4 separate regions of the Homo sapiens genome follow, and all the other regions are linked to region 4. Evidence: fine-mapped expression QTL. A gene starts in region 4. Each other region holds a variant in brackets. All regions are shown on one strand. Distances are from middle to middle.

Region 1 (8,107 bases), 120 kb after region 4:
TAGATAGGATGAGCAACAGTTATTTGCTTTTTATTGAAGCAGAATTGAAACTTTGAACTTTGGTGTATTACCCAGAAGTTCTTGCCTCATGGCAAAATTCTATAATCTGAATCTGAAGGAAATTCATTTTTCATTGCTTTGGAAAGGAAAACCTAGCTAAAGAAGTAAACTTTTTTAAAAATGAAAAATACTTAGAAACGTTTTCCCCTAGGATATACCATGATAAACTTGATAAGACTTGAAAAAAAAATGGAAGAGATTTGTTACATATAACCAACAAAGAATATATTAAGGGCATTTTTTTTTTTTAACGGGCAAAAGATTCTTCACACAATAAGGAACACATTTGCCAATGAACATATGAAAAGATGCTCAAGCTCATCATAATTCAGCAAAATGCAAATTAAAACCACAGTGAAATACCACCAGAATGGCCAAAAATAAATACTCTGATAATACCAACAATGAGCAAGGATGAGGAGCAATGTGAATTGTCATGTGCCGAATCTGCTGGGAATGTTAATTCAAGCAATCACTTTGAAAATAGTTTGGGATTACCTAATCAAGTTCAGTATAAGCATACCCTTTTCCCAGCAATTCCATTCCTAGATTTGAAGGTCAGAGAAACTCTCTCACGCATGTGTACCAGGAAATAGGTAACAAGATTGTTTATAGCAGAGAAATAGAGGGGAGAGACTATAAGCAACTTAAATGTTCATTTATACGATAGAATAGTATATAGAAATGAAAAGAAAGTAGTATAGCTCTAAGCATCAACTCAAAACAATGAACAACATTAAATGAAAAAAGCAAGTCACAGAAGGGTGCATACTCTGCGAGTCTGTTTACGTAACATGCAAGAAAAGGGGCAGATCTAAAACTGTTGAGGGTATGTACAAATAAGGCAAAACTGAAGGAAAGCAAGAGAATGATTAATTCAAAATCTGGTAGAGTGGCTACTTTTGGAAGAGGAGATGCAACTAGAGAAGTGAATATGAGGGTATTAGTAATGTTTTCTCTTTTATGCTGGGCAGGGTGTTCATGGTTTTTCATTTTATTCTTTAAGCAATACTGTAAACAAGCTTTGTGTAGTAGATTTTACTTTGGGATTAGGAGAAGCAATGTATTGGAGTAAGCTATTTAGTCTCTCTGTGGAATGTAGAATGTCATGTTCCAACTTTACAGAACCTGGGTGGCATATAGCATTGCCTGCCTTTGCCCCTAATATCTCATTCCTATCGTATTGCCTATTAGAGTGCCCTGTTAGAATGATCATTGAATTTATGACCCATACTAGGACATTCTTGAAAGTAAAGTAAGGGATGCATAAAATAATTAAACTTATATCTATGTATATTTTAAAATATTCATTGAGAAAATTGGCTTATGTACTGAAAATTTCAAAAATGTATTAAAGCACATTAAAAACTTTTAAAACAGTAATTATCCAAACATTAAAAAAAAAGCATGAATTAAATTATTCTTGGTACATATTTATATACTTTTATCAGTTTCTTACCCTTATCTGTCTGAAATATCACATCATTGATATTTTTATAAAGGGAAAATTTTTTTAAGTGGTGTTATTTTTAATTTTTGTCCCTTAAATTTTTACCTTCTTCAGAATTACATTTTATGGCTAATATATTGGAAAGTGATGATATCTTCCATTGAATCTTATCTGAAGACTGTATTATTTTTAATGGAGAAAATATACTGTAAATATACTTGTAAGCTTGCTTATTTATTTATTTATTTTTAGAGACAGGATCTCACCTTGTTGCCCAGGCTGGAGTGCAGTGACACGACCGTAGCTCACTGCAGCCTCAAACTTCTGGGCTCAAGCGATCCTTCTACCTCACCCTCCCAAGTAGCTAGGACTACAGGTGTGTGCTGCCATGCCCAGCTATTTTTTTAAAGTTTGTATAGAGATGAGGTCTCACTGTGTTGCCCAGGCTAGTTTCAAACTCCTGGGCTCAAGTGATCCTCCTACCTCAGCCTCCCAAAGTGTTGGGATTACAGGCATGAGCCACTGTGCCTGGCCAAACTTGCTATCTTAAAGTTGGAGGTACAAAATGGACGCTTAACAAACAGTAATGACAATGATAATAATTTGCTAAAAAAAAAAAAAAAATTCAAGATAACCAGTAAACCAGAAGAGGTGCCAATAAAACAGGTATACACCAGACCTGTTTTGGGCAGTTACACAAGTTGCCTGCAATGTAGTATCTGCATAAGCAAATTCTGTTCATTTGCTTGTGTTTTTTTTCCCCTGTGATTACAGGATGTTTTTACTTTTTTCAACACACAATTCTATTTCCTCTATATTTTCCAGAACAAATGCATACCATGTATCTTTTACAATGAGAATAAACCAACAAAACTGTACTTTCTCCTTCATTTTAACTGGCTCCTAGCTAGATTAGAGATACTCATACTTGAACTGGGATAATAAGTAAAACCCAGTCGTATGCTTTCCATGTATTCTGGAAAACATTTAGGACTTATGGTAGGTCTGGCCTCAGCATCTCAACATTAAATCAGCAGTTCTCTTTCCTGGAATTAGAGATTCGTGCATCAAGCTGAGCATGGTGTCCTGCGCCTATAATCCCAGCTACTCGGGAGTCTGAGGCAGGAAGGTCACTTGAATCCAGGAGTTCAAGACCAGCCAGGACAAGACCCTGTCTCAATCATAAAATCTTTTTTTAAATTTTTTAAAAAATTAACAAGTTAATATAAAATTAAAGTGTGTCTTGAAATCAGACAGCCATCTTGTCTGCCATCGATGAACAAATTACAAAAATGGACTCATAATACATATTTGCCCACAGGGCTTGCAATACTGTTTCACAAAGATGGCTGTATTCTTCCTCTTCACAAACGGCCAGTCTGATACATAGCATGTTTAGCTACAGATGCCTCTGCTGACTCTCCCTGCAACATTTTCATTGCTCGCCAGTAGATCTGTCTGCAGTTTTCAGGTCTACCAAGGGGGTGGTTCAATGGTTCCTTGATACAATCCACCCAAAGATCAGAATCTACAGATCCAAACTCTCTCAAAGCCCTCTCATAATATTCTCTTAATGTTCACCATCTTGCAGGATTCTTGCTGTTTTCAAACTGAATCATTTTCCTGAAAAAGTCAACTGAAAATGGATGGCTGTTCTGTAAACTTTTATACACAGCTCTGGCTTTTTTGTAGCCACCATGTTGATAAGCCCAATCCAGGTACTTATCCTTCAGGGTTACTGAGTTGGCACCTGTGACAGCTAAGAGAGCTTTCTTAAAGATTGCCTCGGTGTCTTCTTGGCTTTTGGCACCTTCACTCCACTCTGCCAAGAAGTCCACAATGGTAGACAAACCTGGAGTTTCAGGTGCACAGAGTCTTCCTCAAAAAGCATGGCTATGTCAGGGCTCTTTGAGTCAATCAGCACATGCACCTTCATCTGCCACATTGTCCCAGAGTCTCTATAAACAGTTCAGTCCCAGCTACTGCCACCTCTAGAGCTTTCCTCAGGAAGTTATGGCACAGCAACAACTCAAGTCAACTGCTTGTATTGGAATTCTGGCAGAAGCTTGAGTTCATGTGCCCTTCTGAATGCAGTCATGGTTCTTTCCAACCTCTTCCCTCTGAGGAACCCACTATTTGTCTTCTTAGTAAATCTTTCCAAGCAAAAGGTGATATAACACTTCCACATGGCCTCCCTTGGCAGAGTCTTCACTGCCTCTTCATATACGGCACAGCATCTGTCCTCCTTCTG[G/A]CCCTCCTCTGCTTTGTCTTATTTCGTTGTAGGCTGTACGCTGCTCTTCTCCCGTTTGTGACTCGATCTCTAATTGTCACCTTGCCGCATAATCCCAAGTGAGAAGATCATCTGTGTGTAGAGCCTGAGGGTCATCATAAATTTCTATTTGTAGACCTTTGGCAAAGTCAAATCGCTGTGCAGTTGAAAGCAGTGACACATGAAATTCTGCACCTTAAATTATGCTTACAGAATTTTCATAGATGATCCGTGCCAATTTGCCCTTAAGGATTTCTTCAGAATAATCAGGATTCTCCACATCCATGTTGGCTTTTTGAAATTCTTGCTTTTCCTTCCTCAGTTTTTCAGCATGCATCAGCTCCATCCTAAAGTAGTCTTGATAAAGTTTTGGGCCCTCTGGATGAAAGTGCAGTGCCCAAAGAAATAGTTGCCTTGCACTTTCTGAAGACAAGCAGTCTTCCATTTCCCATTTGGCTGCCATAATCCACAAAGCTGGCTTGTTGGAATGAATGGCCAACATGGCAGAGAATACCTTGCTAAGTTGAGTTTTAGTAGCCCATTTCTTACAAAAAACTACATAGGAGGCCAGGCACGGTGGCTCATGCCTGTAGTCCCAGCACTTTGGGAGGCCGAGGCGGGTGGATCACCTGAGGTCAGGAGTTGGAGACCAGCCTGACCAACAAGGTGAAACCCCGTCTCTACTAAAAATACAAAAATTAGCCGGGCCTGGTGGCAGGCGCCTGTGGTCCCAGCCACTCAGGAGGCTGAGACAGGAGAATTGCTTGAACCCAGGAGGCAGAGGTTGCAGTGAGCCGAGGTCATGCCACTGCACTCCAGCCTAGGCGACAGAGCAAGACTCCATCTCAAAAAACAAACAAAAACCTACATAGGAGAGCCAAAGTTGAACATCGTCTTTCCTCTTTGCTGAGGCACTTCGGAAAACACCTTGTACCTGGTGTACAATAGAATTCTCAATCTCATCCTTCTTAAATGAATATCCAATGCGTGTTCTTCTCTGGATCTGTTCGAAAAGATTAATTTCATGTTGAACATAATTGATAAAGTCGTCCTTGAAAAGGGCTCTTTCCTGGATTCTGTACTGTAGATCAGAAGCCTTCTTAATGATAGCGTTAATCTCTGCATGACTGAACAGTCCAATGTGCTCTAGCTGTTCCAATTCAGGGAGCTGATCTTCTTTGTGTTCCTGAATTATCTCTGCCATGAGGTCCGAACTCTACAACCCCATGGGAGCTTCTCAACCGCGAACACGTGCAGGAAGCTCCCCCATTTGCTTGTTGTTGGACCCAAGGTGGTTGCTAGTCAAATTGCTGTCAGACTCCAGTGGTGAGCCTGCCTTTCTAAACAGTTTGAACATTTCCATTCATGGGAGATGGAAACACATCAAAGGAGCCTTAAAATGTTACTGGTTTGCAGAAAAAACATACTAAAATATTAAGCTGAGAAAACTTGAGGGAAGGGGTAGTAAAGGAAATGTATCAAACTGAAGTACTGAGCATTTTGCAGTCAAGAAAAACGTAACCAAATCACTAAGTCTAAAGTGTATTTATTTCCATAGGTACTAGGTACTTTTTTTTTTTTTTTTTTGAGACAAGGTCTTGCTATGTCACCCAGGCTAGAGTGTAAAGGCACGATCTTGGCTCACTGCAACCTCTGCCTCCTGGGCTGAAGCCATCCTCCCATCTCAGCCTCCTGAGTAGCTGGGACCGCAGGTGTATACCACCACACCTGGCTGATGTTTTGTATTTTTCACCATGTTGCCCAGGCTGCTCTTAAACTCCTGAGCTCAAGCGATTCACCTGCCTCGGACTCCCAACGTTCTGGGATTACAGATGTGAGTCACTGCGTCTGGCCCAGTACTAGGTATATTTTATGAGACAGACAGTTCATACATATGGCTGGAATATGCAGAAATCCTTGGTTTCGCCTTTCCTATAGAACAGTCCTGCCGAATCAGCAGATGATTAGCTCTTTGATATATGCCAACTTCTGTGTCTCTAGAGCTACTATTAACCTGCTTGTTGATTAACCTCATGGCTGCCTGGGAGAGACCGCACAGGAAGGAAATGATGATGGTCCCTTCCCACAGTCAGACCCTCCCACCAACCTTGTCAGTCAGTGGATGACATATCCCAGCATGATTTTGAGTATTTTACTCAATCATCTTCAGAATGCTGTATTTTTTTCCTTTAAAAACACCTCAGAAAAATATTTTCAAATGCATCTTTTCAAAAGAATATTTTTCCTAGTGGCAAGAGACCACTCCTGTCATGTGGAATGTATTGCTATCCCCCCATATTAATACTGAGTCATATTGTTCTCCTAAACAATATATAGTAAAACAAATGTGCCTTAAACATATTGTGCTGAAGCAAAGTACTCTGGTAAAATAATTTGAAAGCTATTGATGGAAAATCTTTTATTTTGACACATAATTTCTTTCCCCCTAAAATTTAATTATTAGAAATTCTAAATTCTATCAAGTGGCTGCCTTAATGGATTTGAATTTTGTTTTATCTTTTCCCTCTTTTTTCCTGGTTGATTTTTTTTTTCTCAACACAAGGCAAAAGGCATTGAATGATTCATAAACAAGAATAGTATGTGATATGTGATCAAAGAATATATGACACATGGAAATTACATTTCACTTAACCTGAGAATTAGATCTAAGTAGGTGGAGATGACTTACTATTTAAAATGTATTTGTTTCTTCTCTCCATAGCTTTAAGAAAAAGTAGAGATCACTTCTGACTGTACTGAACAGCAAAAATTAAGTGACTTGCTGCCCTGCACATCATGGCACTGCCATTCCGTAAGGACTTAGAAAAGTACAAAGACCTTGATGAAGATGAGCTCCTTGGGAATCTGTCAGAAACAGAACTGAAACAACTGGAAACTGTTTTGGATGATCTTGACCCCGAGGTAGGTGCTAGGTGATGAAGAGAAATGAAATAACTTTTCGAATTCTTTGAAACTCAGTAGCTGCCTTTGAGCTTTTCCATGACTTTTCTCTGGCACCTTCCACCCTTTCCTCCACTTTATCCAAATCAAGTTGCTTTTGGCTCTCTCTCCAGTTCCCCACTTCTGCCTCCATATGTTTAATGACATGACTGTCCTAAACTACTTCAGTATCCTTGTTTTCAAACATCTCCTGAAATTTTTTCCTCCTCTAAGAAATTTTTCTCCTCTGTGCAGGAAGGGATATTTTTAGTACAATGCAGCAGATGGTTACCTTTTTGATACACGCCAACCTCTGTCTCTTCAGAGCTTCTATGCCAGGTGGCTCCAGTGTAGAATGCCTCTAAAAGATTCTTCATGACCCTAAATCTAATTGTTCCCTTTCTGAAAGAGGCTGACCGAATTGATTACATTTCCAGACATTGGTAGAATAGATCTAAGTAACTTCTTGGCAATACAGCAGTCCACTGTGGAGCAGACATGAATATATGTATGTAAGCTTTAACTTGCAAGGTGGATGTTGTTTGTCTTATAAATTACACAAGGCTAAGATAGACACCCATGACCCTTGAATTGTTATTCCCTGATATGTTGGAGGACGGGCAGTGAAGGAAGAGCCTGAAGGTCGTGAAGGTAATGGTTGTTTGCTAGGCTTCTTTTCTTTACCACATTTCTTTATGCCAAGACGTTGATTTTAAGTATCCTCTAAGGACTGAGATGGAGTTCATTTTATAACGTTGTTGTTACTGGATGATGTATCTATACCATAGATCAAATCCCTTAACCATAATTACTATTATAAGGAAAAGTTCCCAGTACATCTGATTGGAGGGGGATTACTCAGGATAATGATGCTGTTTTTATCACATCACAACAGTATCTTCTGTAGGCAGTTCAATCTATTAGACCTATTTGAATCAAATGTTTTAGAACTGGAAAAAGTGGCTGGGTGCTCACGCCTATAATCGCAGCACTTTGGGAGGCCGAGGCGGGTGGATCACTTGAGGCCAGGAGTTCGAGACCAGCCTGGCCAACATAGTGAACCCCGTCTCTACTAAATATACAAAAATTAGCTGGGCATGGTGGTGCACGCATGTAGCCCCAGGCTACTTGGGAAGTGGAGGTATGAGAATTGCTTGAGCCAGAGAGGTGGAAGTTGCAGTGAGCCGAAATTGCACCACTGTACTCCAGCTTGGGTGACAGAGCAAGACTTATCTCAAAAAAAAAAAAAAAAAAACTGGAAAAAGCATAAGACTTTATCTAGTCCCTAGGCCAGGTTCCTCAATCTTGACAGTATTTACTTTTGAGGTTGGATAATTTGTTGTAGGGGGGCCGTTCTGTGCCTTGGAGGGATGTTTAACAACATCCCT
Region 2 (8,107 bases), 140 kb before region 4:
CCACCTGACTTCAAACTATACTACAAGGCTACAGTAACCAAAACAGTATGGTACTGGTACCAAAACAGAGATATAGATCAATGGAACAGAACAGAGCCCTCAGAAATAATGCCACATATCTACAACCATCTGATCTTTGACAAACCTGACAAAAGCAAGAAACGGGGAAAGGATTTCTTATTTAATAAATGGTGCTGGGAAAACTGGCTAGCCATAGGTAGAAAGCTGAAACTGGATCCCTTCCTTACACCTTATACAAAAATTAATTCAAGATGGATTAAAGACTTAAATGTTAGACCTAAAACCATAAAAACCCTAGAAGAAAACCTAGGCAATAACATTCAGGACATAGGCATGGGCAAGGACTTCATGTCTAAAACACCAAAAGCAGTGGCAACAAAAGCCAAAATTGACAAAAGGGATCTAATTAAACTAAAGAGCTTCTGCACAGCAAAAGAAACTACCATCAGAGTGAACAGGCAACCTACAGAATGGGAGAAAATTTTCGCAAACTACTCATCTGACAAAGGGCTAATATCCAGAATCTACAATGAACTCAAACAAATCTACAAGAAAAAAACAAACAGCCCCATCAAAAAGTGGGCGAAGGATATGAACAGACACTTCTCAAAAGAAGACATTTATGCAGCCAAAAGACACATGAAAAAATGCTCATCATCACTGGTCATCAGAGAAATGCAGATCAAAACCACAATGAGATACCATCTCACACCAGTTAGAATGGCGATCATTAAAAAGTCAGGAAACAACAGGTGCTGGAGAGGATGTGGAGAAATAGGAACACTTTTACACTGCTGGTGGGACTGTAAACTAGTTCGACCATTGTGGAAGTCAGTGTGGCAATTCCTCAGGGATCTTGAACTAGAAATACCATTTGACCCAGCAATCCCATTACTGGGTATATACCCAAAGGATTATAAATCATGCTGCTATAAAGACACATGCACACATATGTTTACTGCGGCACTGTTCACAATAGCAAAGACTTGGAACCAACCCAAATGTCCAACAATGATAGACTGGATTAAGAAAATGTGGCACATATACACCATGGAATGCTATGCAGCCATAAAAAATGATGAGTTCATGTCCTTTGTAGGAACATGGATGAAGCTGGAAACCATCATTCTCAGCTAACTATCGCAAAGACAAAAAACCAAACACCGCATGTTCTCACTCATAGGTGGGAACTGAACAATAAGAACACATGGACACAGGAAGGGGAACATCACACACCGGGGCCTGTTGTGAGGTGGGAGGAGGGGGGTGGGATAGCATTAGGAGATATACCTAATGTTAAATGACAAGTTGATGGGTGCAGCACACCAACATGGCACATGTATACATATGTAACTAACCTGCACGTTGTGCACATGTACCCTAAAACTTAAAGTATAATAATAATAATAAAAAAGCAGACAAACATGCACCTACATAATCCCTCATAAAACCTCACAAAACCCACTAAGACAATGTTTTAAATTCAGAGGTGTACCTAAAACATCCTCCACAAAGAATAAATTAAAGTGAGTACATGTGTAACCACCACCCAAGAAGAGAAGAGTATTTCCAGCAACTCAAAAGATTATCTGTCCCTTCCAAATTACACTTCTCCGTCTCAAGCAAAAGTAGCCACTACCCTTTTTGGGAAATCACCCCCTTATTTTTCTTTGTAGTTTTTCAACCTCTGTATGCATGCCTAAACAATATGGTTTAGTTTTGCCTCCCCTCTGAACTTTATGTAAATGGAATCATACTGTATGCTTTTGTGTCTCTTTCTCTGAACATTAGGTCAGAAGTTTATCCTGGTGTATGTAACTGTGATTCACTCACTTTCATTTCTTATTAATATTCCCTGGTATGTACCACAATTTATCCACTCTAATGTTGATGGACATTTTGCCTATTACATACAATGCTGCTATGAACATTCTTGTAGGGAAATCTCGCATACGTGCATGCATTTCTCTAGAATATACACACAAAAGAGGAACTGATGGATCACAGGTTAGGCGTATCTTAAATTTTGGCATTAATGCTAAATTGTTTTCCAAAATAGTTGTACCAATTTATACTGTCACTAGCAGTGCATGAGAATTCCCATCACTGGACATCCTTGCCATCACCAGATACATGTGAGAGTAAGTAATTTTGTGCAAATCTGTTAGGTATATAATAGAATCTCCTGATTTCAATCTGTCTTTTTGTGATTATTAATGAGCTATGGCTCCTTTTCAAATATTTACCGGTCATTTAGATTTTCTCTTGTGACGCACCTGTTCAAATATTTCATCCGTTATTGTTATCATTTTCTTATTTGTAGATATTGTTATATTCTGGATACTAGTCCTTTGTCAAATATAGATGTTGCAATTCTTTTCTCCAACTCCACAACTTGCATTTCACTTTTAATGCTATCTTTGAGGAAGTTCCTAATTTTAAAGTAGTCCAATCTATCATTAATCTCCTTTTATGATACAGTACTTCCTTTACTTTTAGTTTTTTATTTTGACATAATTTCAGGCTTACAAAAAGTTGTAAATTTATACAGTTATACAAAGTTATAAAAAGTTCCTGTATACCACATTCCCCAAATGTTAATATTTTACATCTGCTTTACCCTTGTCTCTGTATACATACATATATTTTTTTCTGGACCATTTGAAAGTTGCAGGCATGATTCCTTTTTATTCCTTAATACTTTAATGTTTCCCCTTAAAAATGTCTTATATGACCACAGTACAATTATCAAGATCGGGCAATGGATACTGATAAAATACTATTATCTATAGAGCTTAGATTTCTTGAACTGCTGCAATAGTGTCCTTTATAGTAAAAGAAAATTCCAGATTAAGTGTTTAGCTATGTCTTTTTAGACTCCTTTAATCTGGAATAATTCTTCACTCTTTCTTTGTCTTTCATGGCATTAACACTTTTGAAGAACACAGATCAGTTATTTTATAGAATATCTTAAAATGCAGGTTTCTCTGATGTTTCCTCTCAATTAGATTTAGGTTATGGGTTTGGGGCAGGAATACCACAGAAATGTAGCAATGTTCTTATTGCATTTTATCAGGTGGCACTTCTGTTAATTTGCCCCATCTCTGATGATGTTTACTTTGGACAGCAAATGCAGATAGTATCTTCCAGGTTTCTCCTCTATGTTGTTTTTCCTTTATAATTAATAAGTATACTGTGGGAATATATTTTGAGATTATGTAAATATCCTGTTCCTTACTAAACTTTCATCCATTAGTTTTAGTACTACTATGATGGCTGCCAAATGGCAATTTTCTAATTCCATCGTTGCATCATTTGTCAGTTTCCCTCTGTAAAGAAGAGCGTTCCTTATTTGTGTACTTATTTATATCAGTAAAAATTCATGGATTTTTATCTTATTCAAAGGGTTATAATCCACTATCATTTATTTTCATACCCAGATTGTCCCAGATTTGGCCAGTGGAAGACCTTTAAGCTAGCTCCAGTGTCATTATGACATGCTATGACCATTCTTTGAGCAATTCCTTACTTTCTGGCACAAGAAATTCCAGATTCATCTCATTTTTCATGCTCCAGCCTAAAATCAGCTATTCCTCCAAGAAATAGTGGTTCCTTTTAGTGGACAAAGGTATTTAGAAACCAAGATCTAGATGCCAGTTGTGTTCACTGCTACAGGGGTATCACTGCTTCTAGGCCTCTCAGCTGACAGTTAGGAAAACAAATGTGTGTGTATGTTTATGTATGTATCTATAGACAGACACACACATATCTATTTTCAACTGTCCACTGAAAGGGCTTAGGATCAAAGACACACCAATACAAACATCCGTATCATATCTACATATCTCTATACCTATACATCACTGCTCTATGTCTGTTTAAATATACACAAATATATGCATGTATACATACACACATTATTCATATAAACATGTAATATATTCATATGTGTATAGACACATACACATCTATGAGGTCACACTAATGCCTCTAATGCAATTATATTGACAAGGTTCATTCTGGCCTTCCCACTTTCTCTTTTTTTGAGATGGAGTC[T/G]CGCTTTGTCACCCAGGCTGGAGTGCAGTGGTGCCATCTTGGCTCACTGCAACCTTCACCTCCCACGTTCAAGCGATTCTTCTGCCTCAGCCTCCCAAGTAGCTGGGATTACAGGCACGTGCCAACATGCCCAGCTAATTTTTTGTATTTTTAGTAGAGACAGGGTTTCACTGTGTTAGCCAGGATGGTCTCAATCTCCTGACCTCGTGATCTGCCCGCCTCAGCCTCCCAAAGTGCTGGGATTACAGGTGTGACCCATTGCACCCGGCTGCCTTCCCACTTTCTACACTTGTAACTCTCTTCTTCAATAATGAGAAACCTGGCTCACAATATCCAAAATATTTCTATCTGCAATTGTGGTTTATTTGTGTAGTGAATTCCTATAATTTTAGGTTGCCTTGGCATTCGTTTCAAGTATAAGTCTGACTTTCTCATTCAAGAATCAGGGCTCAGTCACCCTTGACACAGTTTTTAGTTCTCCATTTCCTCCCAGGTCCTCAATGTGGTCAATCAAGATACCTGCCTTTTACAACCACCTCCTGGTTATCACCTCCTTTTAGGAGAGCTAGGTAGAATCTACCTGACTCACCCTAATGACCCCAAACCCTGCACAGATATGCCTCAGTGACCACCTCTTAGTCACAGCATGACTCATGCCTGCTTGCTCCAACCTACAAATTAGAACTCCTCATAGGAAACTTGCTTGGTTAAGAACACCCTGGACCCCAGTAAAGGCTTTAGTTCCCTAGGTCCTTTCTCTTTCATCCCATCCACTGGTTGCACTTGCGTGTCCTAGGTGGCACCCCTCTTCCTGTTGACCTTGCAAGGTGTGCTACTTTCTCTTCTCTCTAAAATCTGAAATTAAAACTGCTTGTTATTTCATGCGTTTTGTTTTACCATCTCCTCTGTAGCTCACCTGACCAACACACCTGAACCTAATTCTCCGCTTGGTCAGGGTTCTCCTAGAGCGTGGCTGTCTTGGTCAAATAAACTGGACACGGATAGGACAAGAACCACAAGGGTATCTGCCAGTATAAGTTTCCTGTGAGAAGAACACCTGGCCATAGGTCTGACATTTAAGCATTAGGACATCTACCAAGATAAAAAACTATCTCATGAAAGACAGACTGTAAACATCCATGACCATCTCATATGGTCATATCCCAGCTCCACAATAATCCCTGGAGCCCCATCAGGACAGACATACAGTTAACAGCCACTCTCCAGAGAGTTTACAGACACTCTCAAGAAAGATCAAATTAGAGGAAAATAAAACAATTTGGCCAGGCATGGTGGCTTATGCCTGTAATCCCAGCACTTTGGGAGACCGAGGCGGGCGGATCACAAGGTCAGGATATTGAGACCACCCTGGCTAACGTGGTGAAACCCCATCTCTACTAAAAATACAAAAAATTAGCCGGGCGTGGTGGCAGGCGCCTGTAGTCCCAGCTACTCGGGAGGCTGAGGCAGGAGAATGGCGTGAACCTGGGAGGCGGAGCTTGCAGTGAGCCGAGATTGCACCACTGCATTCCAGCCTGGGTGACAAAGCAAGACTCCATCTCAAAAAAAAAAAAAAAAATTTGATGTTTTAAGAAATCTTTTGCAACCTCAAGGTTAGCAATACATTTTCCTCTACATGTATTCCTCTGAATTCTCCCTTCTAAAATATGTATTGTTCTGTCTTGCACATCTCTAATCTACTTGGAGTTAATTTTTATGTATGGGGTGAGATAGGGACCAAGTCTTCCTTCTTTCCTATGTAGATAACAAGATGTCCCAGCACCACTGATTGAAAAGATCAACCATCCTGTTACTCTACCATGCCAATTGTGATATAAATCAAACATCAACAAATGTGTGGGTCTCTTTCTGGTGCTGATTTTGGTGTATTTGTCCTCAGACTGCCATCTCACTATCTTAATGACTACAACTTTTATAAGTCTTGAGCTGGTAGAAGTCTTCTTTATTGCTCTTCAATATTGCCTTATCTATTCTTGGCACTATCTAGCTCCATAAAATTTTAGCATCATTCTATCAAATTCCACAAAATTCTCTTAAAATTTTGATTGGGAATGCATCAAAGATACATAAATAAGCTTGGAAATGGTTGATATTTTTACAGTAGTGAATCTTCCAGTCCATGAACATAGTATTTATCTCCTTTAAGTCTCTCAATAAAGTTTATTAATTTTGCTTATAGGAGTTTTACACATATATCATTAGATTTGTTGCTAGGTCCTTTTTGATGGTATGAAAAATGACATCATAGCTCCAGTTCCAAGTAAAATAAAGTAACCACAGTGATGTCTCTCCCACTTGATGCAGCCATAAAACATAAACAGAAAGCACAGAACAGCTATTTGAGGACTCTTAATAAGGTGAATTATAGCAGATAAATGCGGTAAGAAGAATGGAGTTTGAAGTTCACTATTCTAGCAGAGTTTCCCATTTTACTGAACTAAGTTAGGCCTGGACTGTCAGGCCTAAACCAAGCAGCAAAAACAGAGAGCTCCAGGAGAAGCCATTTACTTTTGGCTCAAGGAATGGGAAAGGAGACTCTTAATGTTCACAGAAAGGGAGGAAAAATTCTCCCTTTATCTTTTTTTTCCCTTTTCTCTATTTTCTGATATCACAGCCCCCAAATAATTCCACAGTTCTACTCTGAGGTGCCATGACCCCAAGAGAGTAGAGTGGATCCACGTTGCTCTTTTTCTTTCTCTACAGGTACTTTGGCACTGAATATAGACAGGTACAGTCACAGGAAGTGACTGGTTTTCCAGCCAGAAAACCAGAAAGTACCAGGAAAGTCACAGAAAGAGGAGTCTGGAAAGGCAACTCAACAAACTTGCTTGTAAACTCCCGGGCTCATCCCCAGGCTGTGCAAGCATAATCTTAAGCTTAAACAGCAGAGCAAAGACCTTGAGACCACTGCCCAGGTTCCATACTGGCCACTCAGTGGCACATCACAGGATAGAGTATATTCAGCTAGCACTGCAAAGGCTTTGAAAATGGAACTTACATGGAAACTACAATATACAGAAGGTTGGTCAAACCTTTCCATCTCAACCCAGCCAGCTCTAATTCCTGCTAAAACAAAAATATCAACATTCTCCATAGGATTTACAAAAGGCCCAGAGTCGCATAACGTAATATTTTTAAATGTCCAGGCATAATCCAAAATTACTCATATAAAGAACTAAGAAAATCTCAACTTGCAAGAGAAGAGACAACAAGACACAGATGTTGAAATCAACTGACAAAGATGTTAAAATGGCTAGTAGAAAAATGTTTAAAGAAGTGTGGGCACTCCCCAAATCAATAACATAGGTTTCCATCTTAATCAATTAGAAAAAGAAGAGTAAAACAATTCCAAATCACATAGAAGGCAGGAAACAATAAAAAAGCAGATATCAATGATATTAACAGAAAACCAAGAGTGAATATGAATGAAATCAAAAGAGCAATATAACATAAAAACTTCAGCAAGATAGGCAAAGAGAAAAGACACAAATTACCAATATCAAGAATAAAAGAGGGGTATCAGTACTAACCCTGCACACATTAAAAGTATAATAACGAAATGCCACAAACAACTCTATACGCAAACCTATAAAAATGAAACAGATGAAAAAGACCAATTCCTCTAAAACCAAAAACAGTAAAAACACACCCAAGCTGAAACATATTACTAGGATAGTCCTTTAACTATTAAATAAATTAAACGTATAGTTAAAACCCTTCTGAAAAAGAAAACTCCAGGCCCAGATTGTTTCACTTATAAATTCTACTAACATTTAAAAAAGAAATAACACCTATTCTACATAATCCTGAGAGAAAGTAGAAAAGGACAAAATACGGCCGGGCGCAGTGACTCACGCCTGTAATCCCAGCACTTTGGGAGGCCCAGGCAGGCAGATCACGAGGTCAGGAGATCGACACCATACTAGCTAACATGGCGAAACCCCATCTCTACTAAAAAACAAAAAAAAATTAGCCGGGCGTGGTGGCAGGCACCAGTAGTCCCAGCTAG
Region 3 (8,107 bases), 270 kb after region 4:
GTCTCTTCTAGACTACCTTTAGTAGCTCCTGTTCCCTATCTCCCTTTTCCTTTTGTTCCTTTCCTCCCCACGACCATCATGAAAATTGGTCTGTGGAGATGTGAGTCTTTACTAAGCGTCTCATACTGGGATGAAGATTATTTTTAGGATTAATCTGAGTCACAGAGGGAGGAGGGAAAGAACCATTTTAATCTTTTCCTTTTCACTCCTTCATAACCTGCTGTACAGCTAAATCATTTTACAAATACGTCTTTCCTCCTTTTCCCTAGGAATGCTTTGCCTTTTATCTTTCCTTTGGAAGCAGTATCCATAAGCCTTCATCAGAAGCTTCTAAAAGTGGAAGGGATTTTTCTTTGTTAGAAAGGACCACGGGCTAATTAAAGGAGATTGCTATAAGCTGCTTTCATGTAAGTAGATCCATTTATTATTATAGCGGTTGTTGGTATCTGAGGGGTTATATAGTTGCCCCTGTTTCCCTTTCTCACTGGCCCTCTCAGCTACACCCATGTCTTAGTCTGTTTTGTGCTTTTTATAACAGAATACCTGAGATTGAATAATTTATAAAGGAAAAAAATTTATTTGGCTCACAGTTGTGGAGGCTGGGAAGTCTAAGAGGGGACAGTATCTAATGAGGTCCTTCTTGCTGCATCATCTCATGGTAGAAGGCAGAAGGGCAAGAGTGATCTCAAGAGGGCAAGAACGATCTCCAGAGGGCAAGACATTGAACTTGAAGCTTCCAGCTTTATTATAATCAGCATGATTCAATTCATGAGAGTGGAGCCCCCATGACCTAAACACCTCCAATTAGGCCCCACCTCCCAACACTGCTGCATTGGGGATTAAGTTGCCAACATACGCTTTTTGGGGAACACGTTCAAACCATAGCAACCCCACTCTGGATTTTCCCTTCTGTCGCTCTGAGGCTGAGCGTGGAAGGGACTCCTGCTTTCTGTGGAGAGATGCAGGCAGAGACTGTGTTTGACCTTCTTCCTTTGCAGCAACATGCTTGAGCATGCCTCATGTTTCACTGTTGGACGACATTTCTTTGAGGGGTAAATAAGCATGTGAACGCTACACTTTAAAAAATATCTTTACCAATTTACACATTAAACACTGAGGAAACAAAGAAGAACAAACAAAACCCCCCAAATAAGTTACCCCAAAAGGTGGGAGAAAGTTCTATCTTGGATAAAATAGGCACTCAAAGGCTATCTGTTGAATGACTTGAATGAATGAAGAGAGATCTGGGCCAGGTGCGGTGGCTCATGCCTGTAATCCCAGCACTTTGGGAGGCTGAGGAGGGCAGATCACCTGAGGTCAGGAGTTCAAGACTATCCTGACCAACATGGCAAAACCCTGTCGCTACTAAAAAAGTACAAAACTTAGCCAGGCATGGTGGCGGGTGCCTGTAATCCCAGCTACTCAGGAGGCTGAGGCAGGAGAATTGCTTGAACTTGGGAGGTGGAGGTTGCAGTGAGCCAAGATCGCACCACTGCACTCCAGCCTGGGCAACAAGAGTGACATTCCATCTCAAAAAAAAAAAAGAGAGAGAGAGATCTGGCTTAACTTAGGTGAATGATAGTTTAAACAGGCAAGCTTCTGGCTGAAGATACTAACAGCACCCCTTATTTAGAGTAGGTTAGCATTTTAGGGGTGCTTCCACACACATTATCTCATGTATTCCTTGGACAGACCCCACCCTTCGAGGGAGGGGAGGTAGGTGCTATTTATACCATTTTAAAGTTGAGATTAAATGACTTGCCTGGAATCAAACAACTAAGTGGCAGAACTGGGGCTTACACCTAGGTCTGCTGACTACCGTTGGTGCCAAGACATCAGAGAGATTCTTCTGGTTTCACAGTGGAGCCCCCAAGGATTACTGCTGGGGGACTTGTCTTACTTAAAACTGTGATAGACTGTGTGGAAGCAGGCCCATGTAGGAAATGGCCTTAAGCTCTCCAGAGTAGTAACTACCAAGCAGATGGATCTAAATTGAAAAGATAAGCTTCACACAGCTTATGTGAGTGGACAAAAATATGGCAAATGAGTTTCATTCTGTACTGAATTGGAATAATGCATTTAGTATTGTTAGTCTAAAGTCACTTAAAAGAAGATGAGTTGGGAGCTGTGCTTTATTCTAAGAAAGAGACCCATGAGTTATTGTTGACTGTTTCCTAAAGTCATATAACAATATGCTAGGCCTGTTTGCTAAGAACGTGGAAAACAGAACTGAAAGCATTATTTTGTCTTACATTTGACAAAATGGTAATGAAGTTATACCTGGAATCATGCATTTAATTCTCCCTGGAAACCGTAAAAAAGAGTCTAGTATTTAATAGATATACCAGGTCATAGAAAGAGGTAACTAAAATGACCAAATAGATTTCCTAAGAAGAAAGTTGCTTTAAAAGTAGAATTAAATAAGGGGAAATTTGAAGGAAACCCCTATTCACCTTTCGTTTTCAACTAACATTTTTTTGAGAAACCACTACATTCAGACACTGTGCTCAACACTAGAGTTTACAATGACTAAAACACAGAAGTTCACAATCATTGTGTGAGAATATCAGCCGGGATGAATCATGAGTACAACTCAGCACAGCTATTCTTGTGTGCTTAGTGGATTGGCAGCTGGTCTAGGGTACAATCTCTTGAACTTGGTTGGTATGTGTTGGTTGCCAGGGGCCAATCAACCCTGGTAAACCTGCAATCAAGTTCTTCAAGCAGCAAATCTGAAGAACTGGACCCTTCATATCTACCAGAGCATAAAGTGAAATTATGACTTATTAATAGCGTCATTAACATTTAGTTGTTTACCTGGGTCTAACAAATACCATCCTTCTCTGTGGTCTCAGCACTTCTAAGCTAGGAAGGTACAGACAGTCCCTGCTTGTGACTGAGTTATGTTCCCAAAAGTTGATTTCTAACTTGGTTGTTTGAAACTGAAAATGTATTTTCCCCAGAGAATCAATGTTAGAAATACTGGTTCTGTTCTCAGGCCAACTCTTAGAAGGCCATTTAGCCCATATGCAGCTTGACTTTGAGACTATAGAACTGTGACCTACGACATTGTTTCTATGGGAAAATGTGCCCCAGAAGGAACAAGGTCTTCCTTCCTACCCCACTTCCTACCTCCCTGTGTAATGAAGCCTGTGTGTTTATTATAGGAAGTGCTGCTCCCAAGTGTGGGCGGCTGGGCTTTGAGGCAGCCTTGGACACTTACCCCCAAGGGCAGAGATATTCTCACTTCTCCTGTCCCAGCTCTGGCAGGGAGGGGAGTGGGAGCAGGTGGGGAGTCTGTCCCTGACCCACCTTCTTCAGGGCTATCTTCTGGGGGGTGGGGTTCTAGCAAGACTGGCTACATAATTTCTGGGGCCCTTTGGTTCAAAAGGCAGAAAAATAAAAATGCTGCTAAGCTAGTTAAGAAGACAACTTTTTTTCCTCCTGCTCTCTCTCTCTTGACTTGTTACAGTGTTTTAAATATGTGATTTAATGTTATTCTACGTAAGAAAAAAGAAAAATTTAAATTACTAGCATGAATGTTATAATTCATTTTTATACTGTGCAAAGCCAGTTTTAAATACAAATATAAGATCATTTAATTCCTGAGGCAGGAGGATTTGCTTGAGCCCAGGAGGCCAAGGCTGTAGTGAGCTGTGTTTGCACCAATGTACTCCAGCCTGGGCAATAGAGCTAGAGCTCTATCTCAAAAAAAAAAAAAAAATTAATTCCTTTGTGGACTCACCAAAATGACATAATTTCTATTTTTTAGCTCTTACATATATATATAGTTGGTTATTACCAGAATAGTATAAAAACTACACAAAACTACCTCAACTGATATTTCACCTCTTTTTTTTTTTTTTTTTGAGACGGAGTTCCACTCCGTCACCCAGGCTGGAGTGCAATGGTGTGATCTTGGCTCACTGCAACCTCCACCTCCCAGGTTTAAGTGATTCTCCTGCCTCAGCCTCCAAAGTAGCTGGGATTACAGGCACCTGCCACCACGCCCGGCTAATTTTTGTATTTTCAGTAGAGACGGGGTTTCACCATTTTGGGCAAGCTGGTCTCAAACTCCTGACCTCAGGTGATCCACCCGCCTCAGCCTCCCAAAGTGCTGGGATTACAGACGTGAGCCACTGTGCCCAGCCCTTATTTCACTTCCTGATGCACACACATTGTA[C/T]TAACACTCCACCTTTGACTTACTGAGGAGTAAGAAAGTACTGAAAGGCAAAGGAAATGTCCTCAGCACAAGCAGTCAGCTAACACAGGGAAGTGACACAAGAAAGAAAAGATATGATAGGGTACCGTGGTCTTTTATGTCTTAGAATGCCATTGCCTTCTTTCGGTTTGAAGTTCTGGTTCCAGTGGAAAACATGACTTCTCAGAACTATCAGGACCCCCACTTACTCAGCCGTAGACAAAACAGGCTTACCTTGTATTAATACTTATTTGCTTTGTCTTGCTGAATTCTGATGCACCGCGGGCTCACCAGAATCCTGTGCACATGGGTCATGGAGAACACTATACATGAACAGGGTGGCAGGAAATAGTGAACATACTTATTGCATCTATCTCCTCTGCTCACCTGCGTGCTCCACTGCCACATCTGACTTCACTACACAACACGAGTTCAAAGATAAAATCATCAGGAATGTCAAGATGGTCATAGCAGAGCATTAAACCAAGCATGGGGTCCTTTTGCACGCAGGGCCCTGTGTAATGCCCTGGTTGTGGGAGGGAATGGGATGGGCACTCATAGGTTTAGAGTGAGGCCAGGATGGGCAGATGAATCTTAGGCCTCTTGAGCCCCTGGCCATTTTTCTTCCAGGACACCAGACCTAGGGGATTGCCAGAGGCAATGATGAATGCAGATAAAGACTCCAGAGGTGGTTATCAGTTTCTGGGGATGATGACATCTTCTGGGAAGGGAGTTCCAGTGGTAGTAATTATCAAGTGGTAAATGGGAGGTGAGAGGCAGGATTGTGGAAGGCAGACCTACTAAGCCTACCATATGATATACTAATTGATAAATGGAGCACTCAGAATGACCAGTGAAAGCAAATGTTGGGTACAGGATTAGTTAGAGGAAGTGATTACCTTCTTCCTCAAAGGACAGGATAGCTTGACTACTGAAGTGCAAAGGGGAGGAGCATGACCTTGTGAGTTGAAAGCTGCTTTGTCTCCACAACTCAAAATATTTATCATTCCCTGCACATGGGCTGACAAACATCCGGTCTATTCTTTCCTTTTATTTACTCTGGTCATGTGGCAGAGACCCAGGTTGTTCTCAAAATCTGAGACTAGTTATAGAAGGCTTTGTGGTCTCAAGAGGTTCAAGTTGGACACTGTCTCCAGAAATTAGGAGTATCTGTTCTCTTCAAGGTATTGGGCCTCTCAAGATAGAAGGAAGGACAGAATGCAAATAAGAAAACCTTTGGACTAAATTTCCCTGAAGCCAGAAAGTGTCACTCTCTCTATGCTTCTCTTAAAATGTGTGTGTTGGGAGAGGCTGTAAGTTTTGTATTACTAGTTTAATTCTACCATTTCTACAAATTTGCCTTGCTTCCAGAAAATTCTGACTTCCAAAGCAGAAAAATTAGAGGGGCTCTTTGGATTATTTATTTGGTTTTATAAAATTATTCCAATAGATATTTCCCAGTACTTTTAAATGTTTAATTATATAACCATTATTTAAAAAGTAAATGTATAGTTTTTGTCTCAGAAATTGATTTTATTACAAGGAAAGCCAGGTTTTGTCTAAAATATTTAAGCAATTTTTTTTTTCTTTTTTTGAGACAGAGTCTTGCTCTGTCGCCCAGGCTAGAGTGCAGTGGTGCTATCTTGGCTCACTGCAACCACTGCCTCCTGGGTTCAAGTGATTCTCCTGCTTTAGCCTCCTGAGTAGCTGGAATTACAGGTGCCCGCCACCATGCCCGGCTACTTTTTATATTTTTAGTAGAGACACAGTTTCACCATCTTGGCCAGGCTGGTCTCAAACTCCTGACCTTGTGATCCACCTGCCTCAGCCTCCCAAAGTGCTGGGATTACAGGCGTGAGTCACCGTGCCTGGCCTTAAGTAATTTCTTACAGCTTTTCAATGAAATCCCATTTGTCATAGTCTGAGAAAATGATAGAACGTTTGTAAAGTGTTTACCTGAAACGGGCTACTTGGTAGGAACTTGATAAATGATTGCTATTACCATTCTCCTGAAGGATAAGTTGTTTTTTTGTTTTTTTGAGACAGAGTTTTGTTTTTGTTGCCCAGGCTGGAATGCAATGGCATGATCTTGGCTCACTGCAACCTCTGCCTCCTGGGTTCAAGCGATTCTCCTGCCTCAGCCTCTCGAGTAGCTGAGATTACAGGTGCCACCACACCCAGCTAATTTTTGTATTTTTAGTAGAGACAGGGTTTCTCCATGTTGGTCAGGCTGGTCTTGAACGCCTGACCTCAGCTGATCCACCCAACTCGGCCTTCCAAAGTGCTGGGATTACAGGCATGAGCCATTGCACCCAGCCTTTTTTTTTTTTTTTTTTTTTTGAGACAGAGTTTCACTCTGTTGCCCAGGCTGGAGTGTAGTGGCACGATCTTGGCTCACTACAACCTCCATCTCTTGGGTTCAAGCGATTCTCCTGCCTCAGCCTCCTGAGTAGCTGGGACTACAGGCACACATCACCAGGCCAGGCTAATTTTTGTATTTTTAGTAGAGATGGGATTTTACCATGTTGGCTAGGCTGGTCTCAAACTCCTGACCTCAAGTGATCCACTCACCTTGGCCTCCCAAAGTGCTGGGATTATGGGCGTGAGCCACCGCGCCTGGCGGAGGGGATACTCTTGTTGCCCCATCCAATTAAATGTGGGATCCTAGTTTTGTTTGCAGGTGGTAGTCTTGCATTTCCAAAAATCATTCGTGTGATCTGCCTCTCATCAAACTTTATGTACAGGTTTGATGGGTTTTGACTGAAAACATTCTCTCCATAATCTTTAACTATAGTCAGTCCTCATTATTCACAGATTCTGTTTGCAAATTTGCCTATTGCTGAAACTTATTTGTAACCTCGAAGTAGTCATAGCACCTTTGTAGTCACTTTTGAACATGCACAGTAACGAGATACTTGAGTCACCCTACGGGAACGTTGCCAGCTGAGGCCAAACAAGACAAGATTCTGCCTTCTTGTTTCAACTCTCGTACTGTAAACGAGTGTCCTTTCCATGGTCTATTTGGTGCCATGATTTTTTTGTTTTTAGAAACAGGATCTCTCTATGTTGACCAGGCTGGACTCAAACTCCTGGGCTCAAGTGACCCTCCTGTCTCAGCCTCCTGAGTAGCTGGGACTATAGGCACATGCCACTGTGCCGAGCCATCACATGTTTTGCTTTCCGTTGGTGATTTTGCTGTTTAAAGTGGCCCCCAAATCTATTGCTGAAGTGCTGTATAGAGTTCCTAAGCACAGAAGGCTGTGAAGTGCCCTACAGAGAAAATACATGTTAGATAAGCTTTATTCAGGCATGAGTTACAGTGCTTTTGGCAGCGAGTTCAGTGCTAATGAATCAACAATAAGTATTTAAAAAGGTGTCTTGAAACAGAAATACACATAAAACAAGATTATATATTCACTGGCTGATGAGAATGTTGTGCCAGAGGTTTGCAGGAACCTAGCCTTGTATTTCCCCTAGGAGCAGGGTTCAGTTTTCACTAATTTACTGTTCATGATCACTTTACAGAACATAAGTACCACAAATAATGAGAATCCACTGTGAGAATGAACTGTACTTGGCAATGAATTTCTTCAGTGGAAGGCTGTTTTGTTTATTTACAAATCAAATTACAACGTGTTCTTCTATAAACCGTGTCTAGGAGAGCAGTCATTTTAAATTAAGAGTATAAACAGACACACAGAAGCTTCAAGTTGGAGACCATGGAAGTTATCAGCTGGCTGTAGGCCCCTCCTCTCCTCTGCAGTTCCTTTTAGACCCTCCTTGACAGGTGGCCATTGTTTTCTGATTGAATGCTTCCAGTGATGTAGCATTCACTTCACCAGGGAAGTCCTGTCCACTGTGGCTCAGTTCCAATATCCAAAACAATCCTTTCTTATGCTGAGCCAA
Region 4 (8,107 bases):
GCCAGGGTGACAAAGTGAGCCTTTGTCTCAAAAACAAAAACAAACAAACAAACAAAACAGAGACTCCTAGACTCCTTTTCTGGGTATTCCAATCCCATAGATCCAATGTCAGCTAGGATCCTTTATTTTTAGTTTGCCCCAGAGTATTCCTGTCCTGCCCAGGCCAATTTGAGGAACATGGATCTATTCTCACATCCTGAGATATGCCCTGCTGCCAGCCCTTCAGCACCACTTCAGAAAATGGCTCCCAGCTTGTTACCCTTGTAATCCAGGGCTGGCAACCAGGTCTCCATCTTCACCCCCTTGTCGGAGTCTCTGTTCTGGGAACTTCCTTGTACCTAGACTACGACTGGCTCTTAATCAGTCTTCCACCAAAGGACTGAAGTCCTGCCTGACACCCAGCTGGGTGGCTGAGGAGTTGCCATGGAGAGACAGGCTTTCCTGAGAGTTTCTGCTCATCTGTGCAAGATTGACAGACATGGTATGTTAAGGTCAACTGTTTGCTGAACTGACTTAATTTCTAGGTGCACTGCCTTGAGTCTCTAAGCCTCCAATATCTCATTTTCGACCTTTTAAAACAATCATTTAAATATGTTGTAGATGGTCTTGCCAGTCAACAACAGAAACCTAATTTGCTCAACTTCTTTCTGTTCAGTCAGAAGAAAAATATTTTTCTGCCTTTTTAGCTTCCACCTTAAAATCTCACAATGAGTAAACCTAATTAATATCTGCAGATATTAGACCAGTGCAGTGGCTCACACCTGTAGGCCCAGCACTTTGGGAGGCTGAGGTGGGTGGATTGCTTGAGCCCAGGAGTTCCAGACCAGCCTGGGCAACATAATGAGACCCCATTTCTACAAAAAATACAAAAATTAGCTGGGCATGTGGCTTGAGCCTGTAGTCCCAACTCCTCAGGAGGCCGAGGTGGGAAGATCACTTGAGCAGCGGCAGCTGAGGCTGCAGTGAGCCATGTTAGTGCCACTGCACTCCAGCCTGGGTAACAGAGTGAGACCCTGTCTCAAAAAAAAAAAAAATCTGAAGATATTAAAACAAGAATATCACTTCACTGTTATGGTAAGTATTATCACTTTCACTGATTCTATATTACCAGTGGAGGAGTCTCTAAAAATTTTATCAACTATAAGCCAGGGCCCAAAGTAATGAGAAATACATGTAATAAACCAGTGGTCCTCAACCAGGGGTAAATTTGCCTTCTAGAGAACATCCGGCAATGCCTGAATAGGGGTGGGAGAGTGCTACTGGCATCTAGTGGGTAGAGGCCAGAGATGCTGCTAAATATTCTACACTGCACAGGACAACCCCGTGCAACAAAGAGTTATCTGGTCTATAACATCAACAGTGCTGAGGTTGGGAAACCCTGTAATGAACTATGTGTCACTATCAATTATAGTTCCTGATTCATTATCCTTGTGTTTAATATCTTAAAATCAAAAGTCTTTATAAAAGCAACGAAAAATCTGATCTACACTTTAATTTTAAAAAGGGGTAATGAGGTTATGAGTAATAGGATCTATATTAGACATAACAGGGATTAGAAAGCATTTGATCAAAGGTGGAAAACTGCAGTAAACAGATGTATAAGAGTTATCTATAATCAACTCAAGTGAAACCACAGACGGCTGTGGGTCACAGAGAGATTGCACGGGAAGACAGCATGGGAAATAACACTCTTCTGCATGTCATAGATTTTTAGGTGCTGTCACTAGCCTAGTAAGGCAAGATGCCTGAAAACCAGATAGAAAAGACTGTCCTCCTTCAGTAGCCAGGATGCTGAGAGAGCTCCTGATAAGACTAAGATAAAAATAAGGATGGATATCAAAAGTAATATCTAGAGGAAAGCAAATGCTTTATCACTGTTAATTCAAGCTGGTCTCAATGAATGATCATACTTGGAAAATATCCTTACCTCTCATCCATCTTCTCATCTGTAAAAAGATTAATTACACCTACCTCCTGGGCTTATTGTGAAAGTTAAATAAGATAAAGATGAAACAAGACAAACGCAATGCCTGCCACACAGGAGGCATTCAGCAGAGGGTAGCTACTGGTATTTCCCAACTTCGCTTTCCTCTGCCTCTGACTCAAACCAGGCCCCATTAAGGCACATAGAGAATTGTAGCTCTATGTTCACATGTATAGAACTCCCAAGAGGGCAGAATGGGGCTCTCCATGGCATGATAGAGTCAATACATGACTGCACAGCAAGGTCCCTTTCAAAATATTTCAAAGATAGAAGGACCTGATAGGTAAACATATACCGGCTTAAATATGCAAAATACATTCTCCTTCATACTGATGCTCCTTCATTCGGTAAAGGGCCAGAAAGAGTTTCACTTTAAGGGAAAGATATAGATAAGATCCTCTTTCTTCCCATTGCTGTCTAAGGTGCTTCAGGAAAGAACACTGAAAACTGATACAGATCCCAAATGTAAAAAGGCCATCACATAGCTCACAGTTAATTATAAGTAATTTTAATGAAACAATTTGTTCCCTCAGGTTTCCATGTTCTTCCCAGAGGTGTAATGCTATACACCCAAGACACACACACTTATAAATTTGTAATAAACGCAGCCCTCCAGCTCACCACAGTTCTTGGCTGCTGCTTAGCGACAGGTGTCACATTCGCGGTTGCCAGTGAGCCCAGAGGGTGTAATTTCACTTCTACATAAAGAAGCATAATCGATAGAACCAGAACCACCCAGTAGGAACAACTGCACCATTCCTGACTCATCACGGAGCTTGTTTTCACAGACAACAAAATTCACCTCAGTTGGGCTTTGCGTAAATATAGAGTAGTGTGATGGGGCCTGCAAATTGGGTGAAGGTGGTTCACGGGGATGCCAAAGCCCTAGTCCTCTTCGGCCTCCCTCACGCGACAGATCTAGTCTGAGCCTGGGCGGGGCACCGGGAACTCGATGCAGCTACCTAGGGAGGGAGCCCTGGCGGTCCGCCCCTCCCGCTGCAGGACCAGCTTTGGCGACCACTGCGGTGGCCAGCAGCGCGCGCTGAGCGAGCCCTGGGAGCCGAGCCGCCCGGGGACGCACGGCCGTCCCTGCGACTCCCCATCCCCCAAACCCCCACCCGCAGTCCCACCCCCACCCCCACCGCACCCCGAGCCGCACCGCCTCCTGCGCGGTAGCTGCCAGCCCGGGCCGCGGCGGCGCGCCCTGCTCACCGTGACACCGTACTTGAGCGCGATGCCCTGCAGCGTGTCGCCCGCGCGGACCCGGTGCTCCACATGGCGCTCGATGACGCCGGCGCCCAGCGGCGCCCGCACGCTGGCGGTGCTGCCGTACGAGCGGGTCTTGGTGCGGGCCAGGCTCAGCGACAGCTCGGCCTCCTCGGACTCGGAGCCGGAGCGCGAGCGCGGCGGCGGCGAGGGGGCCGAGGGCCGCGGCGCGCGGGGGCCGCCTTCCCGCAGGGACAGTGCGGGCGAGGAATCCGCCATGGGTCCTGCCGAGGCCGCCGGGTCGGGGAGCTTGCCAAGGGGGCGGCGCCTCCTCCTCCTCCGCCGCCGCCGCCGCCTCTTCCTCTTCACAGGGGCTGCAGCAGGCCGTTCCGCGGGGGCGGCGGACGGGAAGCCGAGGCGGGGAGCCGCAGGCCGGGCATGGCGGGCGCCTCCTCCTCTGCGTCCTGCCTGCCCCGGGCGCCCGCGGCACACGCACCTGCAAGGTTAAGAGCGAAAGCAGCTCCCGCCGCGGCCTGCCGGTACCGGGAAGACCCTGCAGAGCGAGGGAGCCGGGGAGCGCTGAAGCCCGCGGCCGTTGGGGCTAAGAGAGGGCTATCTGCAGGCGTCCTAGGCCCCAGGTGGACCCCTGCTCCATTGGCGATAGAGCCCTGGCAGAACCCTGCCCTGGCCACGGCGAAAAAAAAAAAAAGCGTTGCTCTGCCTCCTTTATTGATTCCCCAGCAGGAGCCAGCTTGCACAGACCTTCCAGCTCTGCCAATGCCAAGGGTACTTCCCTCCCCCCACCCCAGTGACCTCAAAGTCCACGTCACAGTAAAACTTAAGATCATCAAACACACACAGACAGCTTCTCCAGGTCCATCTCAACAGCCTCAGAGTCCAGTCCTTTCAACATTGCACTAGGAGGGATAGTGCTTCTAAGGCCTAATGGGTGGCCTCAAAATAACCCCCCTAGTTGTTCGGGTTTCACACTTTGTACACTAGTGCCAATTTAAGTCCTGGCTGCCTCGAAAGGCTGGCCACATACAATTCATTCTCCAGGCTCAGTAGTTGGAATTTACTGTCTGCATTCATCTTCTCTTCGTCAGTTTATTCTTTGACACCCTGAAATCGCATCTCCCTGCCCCGTATTGCTATTAATATTATAACCACCAAAGACCTCTTATCTGTACTCTTCATTTGAACACCGTCTACTCTTGAACACCCTTTCAACACACTGTATTATACACAGAGTGGGTACACATTTACTAGCATCTAGTGCCTGGTTTCTGTGTTATTTTGGACAGCTTTCCAAGAAGAGGTACCTTGTAGGAAGGTCCGGAGCCTGGGGGTTTGATTCGTTGGCTGAAGTTTTGGTATGTTGCTGTGCTGGACAGAGGCAAAGCTAATATTGCTCAGGAGAGAAAGGATGGGAGAGGAGCAAGCTTCCACAACACCATCCCACTCAAAACTCCTACAATGGCTCTCTGGGGACAACAGCATTACTAAAAACCTACATTGGCATTCAAGCTATTATTTCTATTTTTATTATTCATGGTCTGACCATACCCCATCTATAACTCATTCTGTATACTCTACATATTCCTGCCAAACAGAGCCTCTGAAACTGGCCTCCTTGTTCCTACTTTCATACCTTGCATGTTATTCCCTCCAATGGTAACACTCTTCCAGTACCCTCTATTACATTGTTTAAATCTTTAAGGTCTGTCTCAAATGATACATCCTCCATGAGATTTTTCCTAATTCTTCCCAATGGTCCCTTTTTCCCACCTGCCCAACTGTTACTGTTTCTTCTTTGAACTCCAAGAGGTTTGTATTAATACCTCTGGTTTAGTATTTAACTCTCTGTGTTTTGTGTTTGTACTTGCATGTACATGCATGAGCTTGTCTTATCTCCTCCAACAAATACGTGCTCCTGGGAGGCATAACTGGGTCTTACTCATCTTTTTAGCTCCAGCAGTGCCTAGCTCAGTGGAATAAAAAAAAAAATAAATACATAATTACAAGTGGTTGAATTGAGGTGTAGTAAAAAGATCCTGAATGCTAATTTAGATTGTTTAGCATAAGTCTGCCATGCATAAACTTTTGGGTGGTATCCAGTGTGTCCATTTCAGGACCCAAGAGAGAGGCAGAATTTGAGTCTCAGTATATAGACAAGATCTGGTAATGTTTCAAGAAAGAAGTCTCTTCCTTCAAAGAGTTTACAATCTAGGAATGAGACAGCATATAATGTTTTCCACTAAGAAAAAGTTTACTGCATGGCTGGAAGTTTTAATCTGAAGATTAAAGAACTGAGCCAGGCGCAGTGGCCCATTCCAGCACTTTGGGAGTCTAAGGAAGGAGGATAGCTTGAGCCCAGGAGTTCAAGACCAGCCTGGGCAACATAGTGAGACCCATCTCTACAAAAAATACAAAACTTAATCGAGCATGTGGCCTACTCCTGTAGTTCCAGCTACTTGGGAAAGTGAGGTGGGAGGATTGCTTAAGCCCAGTAGGTGATCTCTGCAGTAAGCAGAGATCATGCCACTGCACTCCAGCCTCAGCAACACAGTGAGACCCTGGGGTTTTTTGTTTTGGTTTGGCTTTGGGGTTTTCTTTGTTTGTTTGTTTGTTTTGAGATAGAGTCTTGCTCTGTTGCCTAGGTTGGAGTGCAGTGGTGTGATCTCCGTTCACTGCAAGCTCCGCCTCCCAGGTTCAAGCAGTTTTCCTGCCTCAGCCTCCTGAGTAGCTGGGACTACAGCATGTGCCACTATGCCCGCCTAATTTTTTGTATTTTTAGTAGAGGTGGGGTTTCATCATGTTGGCCAGGCTTCTCTCAAACTTCTGACCTCAAGTGATCCATCAGCCTCAGCCTTCCAAAGTGCTGGGATTACAGGCCTGAGCCACCACGCCTGGCCAGGCCTGTTTTTTTGTTTTTTTGTTTTTAAAAAAAAGAACTGAGTTACATGAGGTGTTATTAGATGTTCATTGTTTTCCTTCTTAAACCAGAACTTCAAAATTGTTTTAATATGTATCTACCTACAACATAGAAGTTCATCACAATTAAAGATGAAACATTAAAAGCATTTCCTTTGAAGGGAATGGTAAGAAAAGGAAGCCTATTACTGCCTCTATTTAACATTGTTTTGAAGGTCTTTGCCAAGGCAATTTTAAAAAGAAGAAAAGGAAATGAAGATTGAAAAGAAATCAGCTGTTATTTACAGATAGTAGGCAATACTAAAATGTTTATAGGCAACACATAATGAATACATTGGAACTGTTCAAACAATTGAGAGTTCACCAAAGTTAAAAGATACAAGCTCAATATACAAACATCAATTGCATCACTCAATCATATAAGTGTGAAAAAGATGACATTCCACATACCACCAAAAATACCTAGGAATAAATTTAACAAGAGAAAATTGTTCCTGGTGGCGTAGGAGCAGAAAAAAAAATTTAAGGTAATAAATAAAAAGATAAAAAATAAAAGAAAGAAAGAAAAGTGTGTATTGTATGGAAAATATAAAACTTTTTTGAAGTACATAAAAGAAATATAAATAAAAGCAGAGATATACCATGTTTGTGAATGGGAAATGCAAAATAATGAAAATATCATTTTCTTTACAAACTAATGTTAAATTCATTAAAATTGCAAACAAAATCTCTATAGCATTCTTCAAAGGATATGACAGAGTTATGCTGACATTCATATGAAAGATAAAGCACTAACAAGGGCCAAGGCATTCCTGAGGAAGAATTAGGAAGGAGGCTTACCCTTATAGCCATGAAGACTTAAAACTATGAGAACTAAAGCAATGTGGGACTGGTACTGAGGCAGGAAAACATAACAAAGGGACAAGGAAGTAAGCCAGCAAACAGGTTCACATATATTGGATAACTTAATCTATAGCAGACGTAAAGTTACATATTCAATAAATGTTGCTGGAACAGTTAGTTTTCTGTGTGAGAAAAGATGAAATTAGATCCCTGTCTTATACTACACATCAAAATCAATTATAGATTGATTAAAGACATAATTGGGAAAAGCAAACATTAATGCTTTTGCAACAATATTTTTATAACCTTGGGATAGCAAAGGGTTTTTTAAACAAGATACCAAAATCATATAATTCACACATCACATAATTCATCCATTTAAAGTGTATAATTCAATGCTTTTCTGCATATTTATATTACATTACTAATTTCTTGAATTGTGACAAATGTACATAACATAAAATTCACCATTTTAACTATTTTTAAGCTTACAATTCAGTAACATTAAATATATTCACAGCCCGGGTGGTGGTTCTCGCCTGTTATTCCAGCACTTTGGAAGGCCAACGCAGGTGGATCGCTTAAGGCCAGGAGTTTAAGACCAGCCTGGCCAACATGGCGAAACCCCATTTCTACTAAAACTACAAAAATTAGCCTGGTGTGGTGGCAGGTGCCTGTAATCCCAGCCACTTGGGAGGCTGAGGCAGAAGAATCGCTTGAACCTGGGAGGCGGAGGTTACAGTGACCCGAGATAGCAACACTGCACTCCAGCCTGGGCAACAGAAGGAGACTCTATCTCACAAAAATAATAATTAAATATATATATAATGTATATATAAATAATATATATATATTCACAATGTTATGCAACTATCACCACTATCTATTTCCGAAAGTTTGTCATCACTCCAAAAAGAAATTTTTTTTTTTTTGAGACGGAGTCTCGCTCTGTCGCCCTGGCTGGAGTGCAATGGCACAATCTCCACTCACTGCAACCTCCACTTCCTGGGTTCAATCGATTTTCATGCCTCAGCCTCCCAAGTAGCTGCACCAAGATTACAGGCCTGCACCGCCATGCCCAGCTGATTTTTGTATTTTTAGTAGAGATGGGGTTTCGCCATGTTGGCCAGGCTGGTCTTG

What was found. PIP is the estimated chance that this variant, and not a neighbour inherited with it, causes the effect.
Region 1: its variant is fine-mapped to the expression of LYSMD2 in nasal epithelium (TOPMed, PIP 0.98).
Region 2: its variant is fine-mapped to the expression of LYSMD2 in whole blood (INTERVAL, PIP above 0.99).
Region 3: its variant is fine-mapped to the expression of LYSMD2 in whole blood (INTERVAL, PIP above 0.99).

What each region holds. Positions count from the first base shown.
Region 1 is chr15:51,856,310-51,864,416 of GRCh38, forward strand. It overlaps TMOD3 (tropomodulin 3), which reads left to right. Exons shown (of 10, transcript NM_014547.5): 2 at 6,502-6,701. The coding sequence starts at 6,576. It also overlaps the pseudogene LOC100422490. Among named protein-coding and RNA genes, the nearest start is that of TMOD3, 31 kb to the left of the region's middle. The variant G/A (reference allele first, on the strand shown) is at 3,762.
Region 2 is chr15:51,595,652-51,603,758 of GRCh38, forward strand. All of the region lies in intron 1 of DMXL2 (Dmx like 2), which reads right to left. Among named protein-coding and RNA genes, the nearest start is that of DMXL2, 23 kb to the right of the region's middle. RefSeq lists an enhancer at 7,901-8,107. The variant T/G (reference allele first, on the strand shown) is at 4,078.
Region 3 is chr15:52,003,996-52,012,102 of GRCh38, forward strand. MAPK6-DT (MAPK6 divergent transcript) reads right to left here. Exons shown (of 2, transcript NR_156732.1): 2 at 7,004-7,471. It also overlaps a transcript of MAPK6 not described here. Among named protein-coding and RNA genes, the nearest start is that of MAPK6-DT, 11 kb to the right of the region's middle. RefSeq lists enhancers at 2,699-2,828, 4,441-4,580 and silencers at 7,037-7,331, 7,797-8,091. The variant C/T (reference allele first, on the strand shown) is at 4,184.
Region 4 is chr15:51,734,154-51,742,260 of GRCh38, forward strand. LYSMD2 (LysM domain containing 2) reads right to left here and starts at 3,502. Exons shown (of 3, transcript NM_153374.3): 1 at 3,197-3,502. The coding sequence starts at 3,469. RefSeq lists enhancers at 278-337, 348-407 and silencers at 1,208-1,277, 2,951-3,160, 3,231-3,370, 3,381-3,820.